Regions from separate parts of the Homo sapiens genome. Here region 1 is linked to region 2. The links come from fine-mapping of genetic effects on gene expression. A gene starts in region 2. The other region holds a variant in brackets. All regions are shown on one strand. Distances are from middle to middle. Region 1 overlaps BYSL (bystin like). Region 2 holds the start of USP49 (ubiquitin specific peptidase 49).

What was found. PIP is the estimated chance that this variant, and not a neighbour inherited with it, causes the effect. A credible set is the group of variants that fine-mapping cannot tell apart.
Region 1: its variant is the best candidate, but not a certain one, in a credible set for the expression of USP49 in thyroid (GTEx, PIP 0.59).

What each region holds. Positions count from the first base shown.
Region 1 is chr6:41,922,739-41,931,070 of GRCh38, reverse strand. It overlaps BYSL (bystin like), which reads right to left. Exons shown (of 7, transcript NM_004053.4): 2 at 3,535-3,697; 3 at 801-939; 4 at 303-436. Among named protein-coding and RNA genes, the nearest start is that of BYSL, 5.4 kb to the right of the region's middle. RefSeq lists an enhancer at 5,311-5,811. The variant G/A (reference allele first, on the strand shown) is at 4,412.
Region 2 is chr6:41,891,002-41,899,333 of GRCh38, reverse strand. USP49 (ubiquitin specific peptidase 49) reads left to right here and starts at 3,959. Exons shown (of 8, transcript NM_001286554.2): 1 at 3,959-4,010; 2 at 7,459-7,540. RefSeq lists enhancers at 3,562-3,751, 4,686-5,200 and silencers at 3,801-4,093, 3,882-4,121.

The DNA.
Region 1 (8,332 bases), 32 kb before region 2:
GGTTGTATCCCAGTGGCTATAAAAGCCTCTCCCCTAGAAATTCATCACAGAGGGTTGTATCCCAGTAGCTATAAAAGCCTCTCCCCTAGAAATTCATCACGGAGGGTTCCTAACTGGCTAACTGGGTCTTGGCCCCAAAAAATGACACAGGAAAAGCTAGAAAAATGATGCTATAAAGTAGCACAGAGAGGGCCCTGGGGCAAAGCTCAAATGCCCTGGGGCCAGAGGCAAGGAAAGCCTGTCCGTCCCAAACTCAGCCTGCACCTATAAACCCAAGGCCCCCGAACCCCCAGCTACTCTACCTGGTGGCCTGGTACATGGCAGCTGCAGTCCAGGCCTCCGGCTCTGTGACGTAGAGGATTTGCTCCCAGTTGGAGAGTGCAGGGATGATCTTAAATGCCTTGGGCAGTTTTCCACTGCGGTACTTAGATAATACCTAGGGATGAGGGAGGTAAAACAATCATCGTCATCCACATATGGCAAGCTTGCTGTGGGCTAGGAACTTGTCTGGGTGCTTTTAATATATTAACTCATTGCATCCCCACAATAACCTATAAGGAGGTGCCATTATTATGCTCATTTTACAGATGACCAGTGAGAGTTCCAGTAACCGACCCAAGGATGCCAAGTCATTTACAGGCAGAGCAGGAATCTGAACCCACACACTCTGCCTCTTAGGTCTGTTTTCTACTCCCATGACTTCTTTAGTATGTGATGCAGGCAAAAGGCAAAAAAGCCTGTGGCAGGAGCCCACAGCCCCCAAAGGGGTCTTCCACCATGGCTCCCCTCTCAGCTCTTACCTCCCGGACCCCCCTGTACACTTCTAGGACCCGGGGGTCCAGCTGGGGCATAGGGAAGCCCGACACCTCTGACATGACTGTCTCAACCTCTGTCTGCTTCTCAGTCAGCTTCTCCATGATGATGTCAGCCAGGGTGCGCCTAAGAGGGGAAGTGCCAAGAGGAGGGGAGAGAGGGGGCAAGGAGCACTGTGGTCACTGTCCAGGAAGCTCCAGACTCCCCACAGTCCCCTGTGAGCACCGCCATACTGCGATCCTGCTGGGATATGCAGCTTAGAGTTCTCTCTCTGTGCCCATTCATCCACCACAGACAGAATCACTGCAGGGTGCAAAGGAACTGAAAGTCATTCCATTTAGGACAAAGCTAGCAGTTGTACGGAGGTTATTATGAACCTCAACTCTGAAGTCAGTCTGCCCAGGTTCAAATCCTGGCTCACCCACTCCCTGGTATGATCTTGGGCATGTTACTTTACCTCTCTATGCCTCTGTTTCCTCATTTGTAAAATAGGGATAATAACGGTACCCACCTTAAAAGATTAATGGAAGGATTAAATAAGTTAATGTCTGTTCATTACTTGGAATGGTCAGTACACAGTAAGCGTTATCTATGGAAATATTTCTAAGACTGATTATATTCTTTTCAGCCTCCTTAAACAGTATTGTTGGGTGTATCAAACATAATCTTATCTTAATGATTCAGAATTACCATCGCCTTGAGCTGTCATATAATACTAGCATCTTCAGAGGCTGCTGAAGTGTATTTATTTATTTTTTTTGAGAGAGAGTCTACCTCTGTTGCCCAGGTTGGCATGCAGTGGCACCATCATGGCTCACTGCAGCCTCTATCTCTCTGGCTCAAGCGATCTTCCCGCCTCAGTCTCTCGAGTAGCTGGGACCACAGGAACATAGTACAAGGCCCAGCTAGTTTTTTATTCTTCTGTAGAGATGGGGTCTCCCCATGTTGCCCAGGCTGGTCTCACACTCCTGGGCTCCTGCCTTGGCGTCCCAAAGTGCTAAGATTACAGGTCTGGGCCACCATGCCCAGACTGAAATGTATTTAAAGCTGCTTCTCAGTTGGGCGCAGTGGCTCACGCTTGTAATCCCAGTACTTTGGGAGGCTGAGGGAGGTGGATCACGTGAGGTCAGGAGTTTGAGACCAGCCTGGCCAACATGGTGAAACCCTGTCTCTACTAATAAAACAAAAATTAGCCAGGCGTGGTGGTACGTGCCTGTAATCCCAGCTACTCGAGAGGCTGAGGTTGCAGTGAGCTGAGATCATGCCACTGCCCTCCAGCGTGGGTGACAGAGTGAGATCCTGTCACAAAACAAAACAAAAAACAAACTGCTCCTCTTTTCTGAGGTCCTACTCAATGCCAGGCACTGAGTTTGGGACTTTTCAGTCCTAGAGTCAGCGCAACACTTATAGGACACGGAAACTTATGCAGACATGGGAACTGGGCCTCAGGTTAATAACTCACCCAAGGCCTCACAGCTGTCAGGTGGGGGTAAGAGTCAAACTCAGGTTTTTGGAAGTCTTGAGTTAAGGTGCTTTATAGTACCTTATAATGTGCCCCCAAACTAAATGGCCTCTGATTGTTGAATTCATGTGGATCTAGGCTTGCTTTCTGAAGATGCCAGCTATCATTTCTTACGACTGCCAGGAGTTCTGATTACTTCAAGGAGCTTGTCTACTCTATTTACTACAAGCTGGAAAAGCATTCTGCTAAATTGGTCAGCATTATCAGTGAAGTAGGAGTTATGAGGTGCTGAGTGAGAACCTGAGAGGCTCTCTGGGGGGACAAGCCCAAGTACATACTTTATGACATATATTTCAACTGTTAGGCATCAATCTGGGAGAGGGGCTCATTTTCATTTCTTCATTCTGCATTTTCAAATAAGCTGCCACAGAATTTATCAGCCTCCCTGTCCTTTTATAGTATGATTAGCAATGAGATGCATTAGCCCAAAACAGCCTAAAGTATCAGGGACACCATTATGTTAATATCACAGGGTCAGAATGAACTGGTTGAGGACCCTTATCCTAGACTCCACTCCCAAGGGCCAAAATTTATGGGCTCAGGAGTTTGACCACAGGCAGTCTAAATGCCTGCATGTTTTGGAGCTAGCATTTATTATAGATGGGAATAAATTAGTGGTCCTGACTAGGGGCAGTCTTGCCTCCCAGAGGACATTTGGCAATGTCTGATGTCATTTTTGGTTTTCACAACTGGGGGAAGGTTGCTACTGGAGTCTAGAAGTAGAGATCAGAGATATCTACTAAACCTCCTACACTGCACAGGACAGCCTCCACACACACACAAAATTACCCAGCCCAAAATGTCAATAATGCTGAGGTTGAAAAACCTTGGCTTAAATGAAGCTTAGGATATGAAGACTTGTCCAAGGAAGTTGAGCTTACCGCTAAAAAAACTAAGAATACCAAAACCAAATGCAATAGGATGGCTCTCCCCAGAGGTGTAAAAGGGGCCTGGAACTGTTTCCCTGGCAACTGGGCAGTTGTACAACAAATGGACATAAGGACACAATGTTTTTTGAGGCTGGGTCATTCCTACTCACAGTGGTCCTTTGAGGATGGGCCAGTTTTGTCAAGGTGGTCCCCTACAGCTAGCAACTCCAGGGCCCTTTCCAAAGGTAGGGAATCATAAGTCTGCCAGGGAACTTGTTTTCCTGTGGGAACTTTCTACAAGGACTCATTATCCCAAATCCCCAGGCCTACCTGGCAGGAGGGTTCTTGTTCATGAACATCTCTATGGCACGCTCATCCTCAGGGTCCACAACCACCTCTGCATGATGGCCCGCTGCTGTCATTGTGGCAGCCTTCTCCAGGGTGGGCCACTCCTCGTCCTCGTCATCTGATCCATCCTGAGGCATTCTTGGACCTAGAAGAGGGGAGACTAAATGGATGAGCACAGCAAAAGGTAGCTGAGGGATTTCGTCAGTTTAACTTTAGCCATTATGTAGTACAGGCCTCACATGTGGTTGTGATAGACGCAGGTATGTGCAGTGAAACAAATGCATTAGCTCCCTGTCCCCAGGGGCTTGCAATCATGCTTGAGAAACAAAATGTATATACAGGAAACAATAAGAAAAGCAATGGCCATAAATAATAGTTAACATACCATACTCAGTTATGTAGAAGGAACTTTTTTTTTTTTTTTTGAAATGGAGTCTTGCTCTGTCACCCACACTGGAGTGCAGTGGCTGGATCTCAGCTCACTGCAAGCTCCGCCTCCCGGGTTCATGCCATTCTCCTGCCTCAGCCTCCCAAGCAGCTGGGACTACAGGCATAAGCCACCAGCCCGGCTAATTTTTTGTATTTTTAGTAGAGTTGGGGTTTCACCATGTTGACCAGAATGGTCTCGATCTCTTGACCTCGTGATCCGCCCGCCTTGGCCTCCCAAAATGCTGGGATTACAGGGCGTGAGCCACTGTTCCCGGCCTGTAGAAGGAACTTCTAAACACTATACCCATGTTAACTGTTTAATCCTTATAAACCCAAGAAGTGGCCGGGCACGGTGGCTCACGCCTGTAATCCCAGCACTTTGGGAGGCCGAGGCGGGCAGATCACGAGGTCAAGAGATCGAAACCACCCT[G/A]GTCAACATGGTGAAACCCCATCTCTACTAAAAATACAAAAATTAGCTGGGCGTGGTGGTGGGCGCCTGTAGTCCCAGCTATTTGGAAGGCTGAGGCAGGAGAATCACTTGAACCCAGGAGGTGGAGGTTGCAGTGAGCCAAGGTCACGCCACTGCACTCCAGCCTGGTGACAAAGCGAGACTCCGTCTCAAAAAATATATATAAAATTAAAAAAAATAAAATAAACCTTCTTATGGAACAATGGCAAATAAATAAATAAATAAGAATAAACCCAAGAAGTGGATACTATTACTATACCCAGTTTCAAATGAGGACATTGAAGCACTGAGAAGTTGGGTAATTTGCCCAAGACAGGTAGTCTGGGTCTAGACTGCATTCTTCACCACTATTCTACACATATTCGGGTTTGATTATATGCCACAATGAGTAGTAGAGACAACATATGCACTTAAAGGATGAGTGGTGAGGACAGTTAGGAGCTGGATGGGCAGTTTGGGAGCAGAAGGAGTGTGTTCCAGACGCAGAGAAAATAAGGCTTGGATATAAGAGTCTCCTAGGCAATAGCAAGAAATAATGCTAGGTACGTGGGAAAGGTGAAGCCAGACTGGAGGGCCTTTAAATTCAGGCAGTAGAGTTCAGATTTCAATCCACCAGTCCATTTAAATACATGAAGTTGGCTGGGCGTGGTGGCTCACGCCTGTAATCCCACCATTTTGGGAGACCAAGGCGGGTGGATCATGAGATTGGGAGTTCGAGACCAGCCTGACTAACAGGGAGAAGCCCCGTCTCTACTAAAAATACAAAATTAGCCGGGCTTGGTGGCGCATGCCTATAATCCCAGCTACTTGGGAAGGCTGAGGCATGAGAATCGCTTGAACCCGGGAGGTGGAGGTTGAGGTGAGGTGAGCCGAGATCGCGCCACTGCACTCCAGCCTGGGCAACAACAGCAAAACTCTGTCTCAAAAAAATAAATAAATAAATAAATAAAAATAAATAGGCCGGGCGCGGTGGCTCACGCCTGTAATCCCAGCACTTAGAGAGGCCAAGGCGGGCGGATCACGAGGTCAGGAGACCGAGACCATCCTGGCTAACACGGTGAAACCCCGTCTCTACTAAAAATACAAAAAATTAGCCGGGTGTGGTGGCGGGCGCCTGTAGTCCCAGCTACTCGGGAGGCTGAGGCAGGAGAATGGTGTGAACCCGGGAGGCGGAGCTTGCAGTGAGCCAAGATCGTGCCACTGCACTCCAGCCTGGGCGACAGAGCGAGACTCCGTCTTAAAAAAAAAAAAAAAAATGAAGTTAGTCCATTTAAATAACTTCTGTTTTTGGAAGGCTACATGTCTGGGCATCTGGAAAGGGGTCTAATAATCCAAGTGGGGAGCTATAATGCTACGTATCAATAGGTCATTAACAACAAAGGCAGTGTGTGATAAACACTAAATAAGGGGGAACAGACATTTTGTCTCCACGTTCCAACGGTCCCCCAAATTTGTACTTTGTAGGTGGTTCTCCTTAGTGCCAGACCCTAACTCCAGGTGTCTCCTGTAAGCTGCTCTTGGATGACTCACAGGCACCTCAAATCTCACCCGTTATCAACTAAACTAATTTTCTTTCCCTCCTAGGTCTACACTGCTAACCATCCACAGCTCAGTAAACGGCACCATCGTCCACCCAATGCTAAGCCTGGGAGGTACTCTTGCCTCATCCCCTGCCCTCACCCTCAACACCCAATCAATTACTAAATCATATTCAATTTTACCTCATAGACTGTCTCTCACATGCTTCACAGCCCCATCTAAGCCTAGATCAGCATCATCTCTTGCCTGGATTTATTCAACAGTCGCCCACTGGTCTCTATGTTTCTGACCTTGCTTCCCTCCAACTCATTTTCCACTCTGCAGACGGTCACCTTCCAGAAACACATATTTGATTTGATCAGCCCTGTCCTTAAAATTCTCCAGTAGCTTCCCATTCTTCCCACTGCTGTTAGGATGGTTTTAAAATCTTTTGTAGGCTTGGCTCCCACCTACCTGACCATCATTCATTACCGATTAACCCAGTCATTCAGCAAACACCAAGCACCTACTATATGTGAGGCACTGTTCGGGGTGCTGGCAATATATCCACGAACAACCGAAACCAAAAGACTTTGTTCTATACAGCTTACATTCTAATTGGAGGAGATAGTCTACGACCATACCACCCTGAACGCACCCAATCCTGTCTAAATGGAAGAGACAGACATAAATAAACATATAAATATATTGGGTTAAAAGATAAGTACTATGGGCTGGGTGCAGTGGCTCATGCCTGTAATCCCAGCACTTCGGGAGGCCGAGGCGGGTGGATCACCTGAGGTCAGGAGTTTGAGACCAGGCTGGCCAACATAGCGAAATCCCCAACTCTACTAAAAATACAAAAAAAAAAAAAATTAGCTGGGTGTGGTGGCGGGCGCCTGTAATCCCAGCTACTTGGGAGGCTGAGGCAGGAGAATCGCTTGAACCCGGGAGGTGGAGGTTGCAGTGAGCCGAGATCGTGGTATTGCACTCAGCCTGGGTGACGGAGCGAGACTCTGTCTCAAAAAAAAAAAAAAGATAAGTACTATGAAAAAAAGATAGGGCAGAAATGCTGGGAGTATGGAGATGGAGTAGAGTGCTGCAATCTTAAATGGAGTGGATAGGCCTCTCTGAGAAAGTAACCCTACAAGTGTATGAGAACAAACTATCCCAGAGAGAAGGAACAACCAGGCCAAACCCCCTAATTTCCCACGTTTAAGGCACAATGAAGCCTAAATAGGTGGAGTGGAATGGGCAAAGAGGAAAGCAGTAGAAGAGGTCAGACTGGCAAAGGAGGCAGATCATATAGTGCATTGTAGACCATTGTAATCCCCCACCTGTGAGTACTTTGTAGAGAGTATGAGACACGGCAGGGTGCAGTAGCTCACACCTGTAATCCCAGCACTTTGGGAGGCCAAGGCAGGGAGGGTCGTTTGAGCCCAGGAGTTTGAGACCAAACTGGGCACCACTGTGAGACCTCATCTCTACAAATAATTAAATAATTAGCGGCCAGGTGCGGTGGCTCACGCCTGTAATCCCAGCATTTTGGGAGGCAGAGGTGGACGATGACCTGAAGTCAGGAGTTCAAGACCAGTCTGGCCAACATGGTGAAACCCCATCTCTACTGAAAATACAAAAATTAACTGGATGTGATGGCTCACGCCTGTAATCTCAGCTACTCAGAAGGCTGAGGCAGAAGAATTGCTTGGACCTAGGTGGCAGAGGTTGCAGTGAGCCAAGATTGCGCCACTGCACTACAGCCTGGGCGACAGGCTCAAAAAAAAAAAAAAAGAATTAGTTGGACATGGTGGCACACACCTGTGGTCCCAGCTACGTGGGAGGCTGAGGTGGAAAGACGACTGGAGCCCAGGAGATTGAGGCTGCAGTTAGCTATGATTGTGCCACCGCACTCTATCCTGGGTGACAGAGAGAGAGAGAGACTCTGTCTCAAAAAAAAAAGAAAAAAAGAAAAAACGGAGAATATGAGATACTAACGAGGAGGCTACTGTGATAATCCAGGTGAGAGACTGTGGTGGCTACGACAGGATGGTGTTCCAAAGCGGTGAAAAGTGGTCTCATTTTGGATACACTTTGAAGGCAAAGTCATCAGAATTTCCTTACAGATCAGATGTGGGGAGGGAGAGACAGAGAGAGGAGATGGTGGGGGCAGGGAGAGAGAGGAGTCTAAAGTTTATCTCGAGCAAATGAAAGAATATGCTACTAACTGAGACAGGGAAGGCAATGGTGAGAGAAGCAGGTTTGGAGGGAAGGTCAGGATTTCTGTTTTGTACATGTTAAATTTGAGCTGTCTGTTAGATTTCAAATTGGAGATGCCAAATAGGCAGTTGAATATAAGAATCTGGA
Region 2 (8,332 bases):
TTGCACTTTTTTTTTTTCTTTTTAGGGATGGGGGTCTCGCTATATTGCCCAGGCTAGTCTCGAACTCCTGGGCTCAAGTGATCCACCTGCCTCAGCCTTTCAAAGTGCCAGGATTACAGGCGTGAGCCACTGCACCTGGCCTTATTTTGCACTTTGAATGGATCTTTTACTAATGTGTGATTTTGTAGTGTCATGCATTGGTCATTTGGAAAACACTGCACATCTCCTAAATGTTGACACATTATACAGTATCAAAAAATCATATTTATTTATTTTTATTTTTATTTTATTTTATTTTATTTTTTGAGATGGAGTCTCGTTCTGTCGCCCAGGCTGGAGTGCAGTGGCACCATCTCGGCTCACTGCAAGCTCCGCCTCCCAGGTTCAAGCAATTCTCCTGCCTCAGCCTCCCGGGTAGCTGGGACTAAGGCACATGCCGCCATACCCAGCTAATTTTTTTTGTATTTTGAGTAGAGATGGGGTTTCACTGTGTTGCGCAGGCTGGTCTTGAACTCCTGAGCTCAGGCAATCCGCTCACCTCGGCCTCCCAAAGTGCCAGGATTACAGGCATGAGCCACCGTGCCCGGACTTATTTTAGTTTTGTGAGACAGAGTCTTGCTCTGTTGCCCAGGCTGGAGGGCAGTGCCATGATCTCGGCTCACTGCAACCTCTGCCTCCCTGGTTCAAGCAATTCTTGTGTCTCAGCCTCCTGAGTAGCTGGTATTACAGGCATGCGCCACCATGCCCAGCTAATTTTTTTATTTTTAGTAGAGATGGGGTTTCGCCATGTTGGCCAGACTGGTCTCGAACTCCTGGCCTGAAATGATTTGCCCACCTTGACCTCCCAAAGTGTTGGGATTACAGGCATGAGCCACCGTGCCTGGCCCACTACCAGTCTTATTAGAAAAAGTCATGGGAAGCTATCAAACTTACATTGGGAGATACAAGTCAGTTGTTAGAAATTCTGTTTGACTTAAATGCTTGAGTTTTATCAGGCCGGGTGCGGTGGCTCACGCCTGTAATCCTAGCACTTTGGGAAGCTGAGGCGGGCAGACTGCCTGAGCTCAGGAGTTCAAGACCAGCCTGGGCAACATGGCGAAACCCTGTCTCTACTAAAATACAAAAAATTAGCTGGGCGTTAGTGGCGTGTGCCTGTGGTGCCAGCTACTCAGGAGGCTGAGGCAGGAGAATTGCTTGAACCTGGGAGGCAGAGGTTGCAGTGAGCTGAGATCACGCCACTCCACTCCAGCCTGGGTAACAGAGTGAGACTCCGTCTCCAAAAATAAAAATAAAGGCTTGAGTTTTATCATAACCGACAATGCTATCAGGCTCTACTTTATTTTTAAGAACATGTCTGCCAAATATCCAGTGAACAACTAGTCTGTTAGCTGTTCTTTCAAATAAAAACGGTGTTCCATGAAGAAAGCTATTAATTCAGCTCCAAACTCAAATTGCAAGAGTGCTTTTCCTCAAGACAAATGTTGTACTTAAAAGTGCTTGATGCATACATACATGCATTTAATCACATAAACGTGTACTTAAATAAAACAATTTTTATTGTCTTCATCAAAGACCTCTTAAATGAAACAGGTGGTTTTTTTTTTTTTTTTTTTTGAGACAGTGTCGCACTCTGTTGCCTAGGCTGGAGTGCAGTGGTGCGATCTCGGCTCACTGAAACCTCTGCCTCCCAGGTTCAAGTGATTCTCCTGCCTCAGCTTCCCGAGTAGCTGGGATTACAGGTGCGTGCCACCACGCCCAGCTAATTTCTGTATTTTTAGTAGAGAGAGGGGTTTCACCATGTTGGCCAGGCTGGTCTCGAATTCCTGACCTCAAGTGATCCACCTGCCTTGGCCTCCCAAAGTGTTGGGATTACAGGTGTGAGCCACTGCACCCATCCGGCCTGAAACAGGTGTTTTTTTACTGTAGCAGTGAAGAATACCTTGACCTCTAGCACAACTTGGTGCAGTTGCCTTGATTTGTGCTAAGGCAGCAGTTTTACCCATTGCTACTTTTGTATCATTGTGCAAATATCATCACAGTGACAATGCAGATATGTCTCAGTATTATTAGGAAAATCGTTTTGATCTCAGGCACCCCACTATCCCCCCAGCCCAAAGGGTCTCAGAGATCCCTAGGCCTTTCCAGGCGACACTTTTTTTTTTTTTTTTTTTTTTTTGAGATGGAGTCTCACTCCGTTGCCAGGCTGGAGTGCTGTGGCACGATCTCAGCTCACTGCAACCTCCAACTCCCTGGTTCAAGCAATTCTCCTGCCTCAGCCTCCTGAGTAGCTGGGATTACAGGCACACGCCACCACGTCCGGATAATTTTTGTATTTTTAGTAGAGACGGAGTTTCACCATGTTGGCCAGGCTGGTCTTGATCTCCTGACCTCATGATCCACCTGCCTTGGCCTCCCAAAGTGCTGGGATTACAGGCGTGAGCCACCGTGCCCGGCCTCCAGGCCACATTTTTGAGAACACTGATCTAATACATGCTCACATCACTGAGAAACTTTTCCTCCTGTATTGCTATTCTGGGAGCATCCCTTCCATTGGAAGTTTTAAGTGGCTCCCAAATTCTTCACTCAGCAAAAGCACCTTGTTATGGAACTAACATTGAATAAGTAACAATCTTTCTTCTCCAAGAATTTTCTTGGGGATTGTTGAGTAAGGGAATAAGACATATAATTAGAGTTATAATGTTAAGAATTCCTTAAAAAGAATTATGTTAACTGTGATGGACGACAAAGGGAGAGCTAAATTCTGAATCTAACTCTGAGGCCTTGAACCTCATGATAAATCCCGACCAAACCAAATTGAAACACTCCACTTCCTCTCCTTCTATCAAACCTCTTTTAAAAGTGCAAGTTGTTAATAAATTGCCTACACAGCGCTTGGTCCAGGCATTGTAGTTTCCCCCTTCCTATTGTGTGTGGTGTTCTTTTTTTTTTTTTTGTGCTTACCTAGTTCTCCTGTTTACAGGTGTGTAACTTGAGCCACTACTATAGCTAATGTCTGTTTCTTTTACTTGTCCTTATATTTAAATGTAAGTCTTTATCTGCCTTAGCTATGTGTTGGGTGTTGAAATTGTTGATCTTATTTTGGGAGACTCCCATCCCCTCCCCCCACTACCACCCCGCAAGTAGTTTCAAGACAGTGCACCTAGGAGACTGCTTAACCTAAGCCTTTTGTAGCTTAGGTGCTGTTCTGTTTCCCAATGGACCACTACCAAGTCAGTCTGGTTTATTTCCCAAGCCTTACAATCTGCTGAACTTCTTCAGTTCCGGCAGCGATCCTCTAACTTGTGGGGGATTTCCATAAAACAGCTGAATCTCTCTTGGGTCATCTGTGGCAAAAGCCAGACACGTGCTCACCCGCCTGGGAGCCAATAGTAACTTTTGCAAACGCTGCCTCCGGAAACCCCACGGTTTGAGGGCTGCTGCTTTAGGAACAACACAGAAATAACGTCTTTTAACAGAATAAAACAAAACATACGGACGGGATAGTGAGAAAGCCTTTGTCCTTCGCAGTGGGGAGAGGTGTTAAAGGTGAACCGAAAAGAGTATGGGAAACTCATGTAAAATACCTTTACAGTTCCCCGGGAAGAAGGGGGCGGAGATGGGCTCGGGAGCGTCTCTGGCCCTTTAAGGAGGAGGGACAGACATAAGAGTCTGTACCTTTAAGAGTCTCTTTGTCTGGAAACCTTCTTATTTACCCTCCTGTGCTTCAACCAAACTTCGACCAGCTATTCACAACGTCCCCCTACGCCGCCGCCCCTTACGCCAGGCTCAAAGCGGCCGCGCGTTTGTGGCTGACCCTAAACTTTGCGCCTGCGGCGCGAACCCTCGGAACGGGTGCCGGTGCCGGGGTCGCGGCCCAGCGCTGCGCCGTTGGCGCAATGCAGGGCCTGAGGGGCGGGGCTCCAGCGGGCGGGCCAATAGACGGGCAGGGGGCGGGGCCGTGTTCGGTTGTCTCGCGCCCTGGTGACAGCTCGCGCGTGCTGATGATGGCGGTAAATAGAGGGGGCCGGGGGAGGGGACGGAGGAGGTGGGGAGGCAGCAAAGTGGGTAGCTCCAGGGGGTAGGGGGAACGGGGGCCGGGGAGGCCGCGACGGCCAGGGAGCCCATTCTAAGACTCGGAGGCGGGGATAGGAGTCTCCGGCTCACTAGCCCTCCCCTTTAAAGAAGCAAAATCCTCACACACCGGGTGAGGGGCGACAAAGGCAGCGCGCGCCTCGCGGGCGGGAGGAGCGGCGGCAGGGGGCGGGACCGCGGCGCCGGCGGGCTGGGGGCGCCCGGGGCGGGGGCGGCGGGAGGCGAGAGCCGGGAGTCGGGGCGCGCGGGCGCCTTATTTTGGCGGGGTGGGCGACGGCTGGGTTGGGGCAAAAGCGTTGAAGGGAGAGGGAAAGGAAGGCTTGGAGGCGATGAGGGGAACCGGGTTGAGAATGAGATGAGGAGGATTAAGGGGAGAAAGGGTTAGAAGCCAGGGAGAGGAGGAGTGAGAAAAAGCCAGCCAAGGAGATAGGAAGGAGGCAAAAGCCAGGGTGGGCGTTAAGGAAGCCGGGCAGGGAATGAGGTTAGGGCTGGGGAAAGGGATCCTGGGGTTAGGTGTAAGAGCAGGGGTTTGAAGGGGAAATCTTCGTAGCGGGTGGTGTTGGGGTGAGGGGTACCGGGGTAAGTGTTGGAAGTGGAAGACAAGGAGGGGCAGAGCTGGGGTAATAGTTGGGAGTAGGAAAGAGAGAGTGATTAAGAGCCAGACGTGACGAGGGTGTGAACTAGTGCGGAGCGAGATGAGCTGAAGGACTGGGACCAACGGTGTGGTGGGAACTGCTGGCGAGGTTCTGAGAAAGGAATGGGTTAGTGGGTGGGCGATGGATGTAAATTCTGTAAAGTGAGGGAGGGCAAATGAGACCTGGACTGGAACCAGGTGGAGTCAGGAATAAGAGTGTGGTGGAAGGGCGAAAGGAAACAGATAAGAGATGGGTGTCTGTAGGACGATTCTGGGACCAGAAGAGCTGAAAGGAGACTAGAGTTAGGGTGTAAGAAGTGATGGCCATCTGGGACAAGGATAACTGGGTAATTACGTTAATTGAAGAGGTTCAGCAAGATCCAAGGTGAAAACAGTGAGGTAAAGAGACAGGGCTAAAAGCAAATGGTGAGAGGAGCAGGAAGAGATGGGCCCCAGAATTTAAAGGATGAGATGGGGAGTAAGGGAAGAGAGGGGGCTAAGAGAAGCTGGGGGAGTCCTGATGGATGTAGAACTGGGGTAGACTGCAGGGGGGTGGGAATCGAATGTGCGTGTTATGGGGAGTTGCTCCAGAAGGTCTGCAAGGGTCAGGGCAGAAATGCTGTAGTGAAAGATCAAGTGTAAGAGAGCCTTTGGTGCAGAAGACGAGGAACCATGGTGAGTGAAAGGGGACCTAGAGACAGGGGTAAAGACTAAAAAGTAAGGGCAGAGGTGGGGGGTGCAGGAAAGGAATTCTTTGTTGAGGAGAGAACTGTGTGTTGAAACTGTGAATCCTTTTGTCCCTAAAAGTAGGAAATTCCAGAAACCTCTTTCTCTCAAGAAATCTTGAATCTGCTTCCACCCTTCATTGCTTTTGATTTGACTTTCCTGTCCACTTTGAAGAAATGAGACTCATTTTGATTTGATTTTTTTCTTGTATGGATGATAAAGTATAAACTCTGGGTGTTGAAAACCTCTGCATTTCACTAGTGTTGTGATAATTCGGGGAAAGGGTGTGCTTATTTAGGGTGTACTCGTGTGATGTGATAGTTTTAGTGTTGTAGGAGTGTTGCACCTGACAAGTGCTGGGCTGTGTTTTATGGACAGCATTTTCATTTTCAATGGAGAACGCACTGTTGTTGGGATAGAGAAAGATGAGAATCTGTTTCTTTTGATTAATCAACCAGATTTCTGCTTATTGTTTTCAGTTGCTGGAGAATGTTAAGAAATCATTTCAGAGAAAGGCAGATAACCAACCAAGGAAGTTTACTGGGGGAGAGATTAAATCAGAGCTGAGGGCTTTGAGTTCCTGAGCTGCCTTTAGCTTTGTGCGGGACGTTTCATGCTGTAGTTGGTAACTCACCCATTTAACAAAATGGCATAAAGAAAGGGAGAATTGTAGAGTAGTGGAGGATTTTAGAGTAGCAGACTTATTTTTTAGGGCAAATAAATTTATGAGTAATTTTGATGGAAAAACATCTCTGTAAGATAATACTGCAGCAAGCTTGGTCTTTGGACAGCTCCACTGCCTTTCGTGTTTTATGGTTATGAATAAAGAAGGCCAGATTAATACTAATTTTCTAGAAGCTTTTGATTTTTAAGACACCTTTAGAAATGAAAAGGAAGATAAGAAATTTGGGGCAAAATTTGGTTATTCTTACTTAGAATTTTGTTTTAATGATTTTTTTCAGAAGCTTTTACATTTAGCTAAGAATATGAATGAATATTTGTTTTGCATTTGATGGTGCCAAAGGATAGCATATGATTTACTTAGGGAAAAATTCAAACAATTGTTGAGAATCTTCTTTGGGGTTATTTCATTGTGTACACTCAGATGCACAAAGATACTTTTTTTTTCAAAGTTGGGTAAATTTTGGATTGACACTTTTGCTGGTGTTTGTATAAATAACAAAGATTAGGTTTATGACTTTTGTAGTAGTTAACAAAGATTAGATTTTGATTTGTGGATTTGAGCAACAATGGTTAATGTATAATTTAGAAAACTCTTTCTGCATTCAGCTACTGTGTTAGTGGCATAGTATTTAGTTTATGGTTTGTTTCCTGGATTGTATTAAGCAAGTGTTCAAGGTTACTAGATGTATTTAGCAATTTAACAGAGGATCTTGGTAAAAATTACTATTTTTGCCACTACATTTTAAAAGGATTAGTTTGATAATGTTGACTTTCAAGATGAAGAATAACTTTGATATGAGGCACTTGTTTCAGTGAGATGTGTGTGCATATTCTTTTTATAGATGTGTTTGGGCTGGCGTTAGTAGTAGGACGTACTCTGTATGGTATTGCCATGTTTATAATGTAATTGTAATTGTTTAATGCTCAATATCTTTATATAAGTGATTATAGACTTATTTGATATTGGTAAAGAAGGAAATATAAACTGTAAGATCAGCCAAGGGAAAGAGTGAGTCCTGCCTTTTGTTTCTGTATGCAACGGCCTTAGTGTGCTAAACCACTGAGTCTCATTGTCAATGGTTATTTCTCAGTCGCTATTTCTAAAACTGAAAATGGATTTTTAAAAATTGAGATAATACTATTTATCAATAAGGACTCCAATGATAAATTTAAGCTTTATTTTCATTTGTTCATCAAGTACAGTTCTACCCAATTTAACTTTATTTTGGTTATAATCTTATTTGCTAAGCAAAAGCTTTTAAGTTTATATTTTTAGATTTATTAGGCTGTACATAATTAAATGTTTTCCTGGTTAACCGTAGATTCTTTGGATGGGAAGAGACCTTGAAAGGACCTCTAGTTTATCCTGCAACTCCAGTCAATATCCCACTTAAATCATTCCAGGTAGATAAAAATTTATCCTATTTTTTAAAACAAATCTTCAGCAGTAATGTGGTAACCTCTGTAGATAATCTTTGCAAGCATTTAATAATTTCTCTATCAGGAGAGTCTGCCTTCTCTCCAACCAGCACATGTTTAATGCTATATATGTGTTTGTTTCCTCTTGCCCCATTCTCAATTTTTGAGTAAAAAATACCTGTGTACTTTTGTATTTATAAGACCTTAGTTCTTCATAAACTTAATAATAGTAGCCAACACACATATAATGCTTTTGTGCCAGATACTTCTGTAAGCACTGCAAATTGTAACTTGTTTACTCCTCAATGGCAATCCTGTGAGGTAGGTACTATTACTATTCTCATTTTACAGGTGATGAAATAGAGGGTCCTTGAGATTAAATGATTTGCCCAAGGTTATACTCAGACATTCCTACAACTATTTATTTGGTAATTATCTTATATTACAAATAATACTATGTTTTGTAACCCAGTGATACATTTAATCTTTATTTTAGTTCAAAAGCTAGAATTCTACCAAGTGGTGGGATGGGATTCCAGCCTTTGCATTTTGCCAGCAGAGTCTGTGCTCTGGTTTTGCCTCTGGCTTGCCTGTTGTGAAGTTCTCCCTCACCAAGTTCTTCTTCAGATTCAACACTTAACAAGTCTTGTTTGCCAATCTTTAAAAATTATCCCTGTAGTCCTGTTACTAACCTTTTATCCAGTTCCTTTCTAGATGAGGAACCTGGGGTAAACACCGTAACGATTATGTATAATGTAAAGATTACATCAAGGTTGT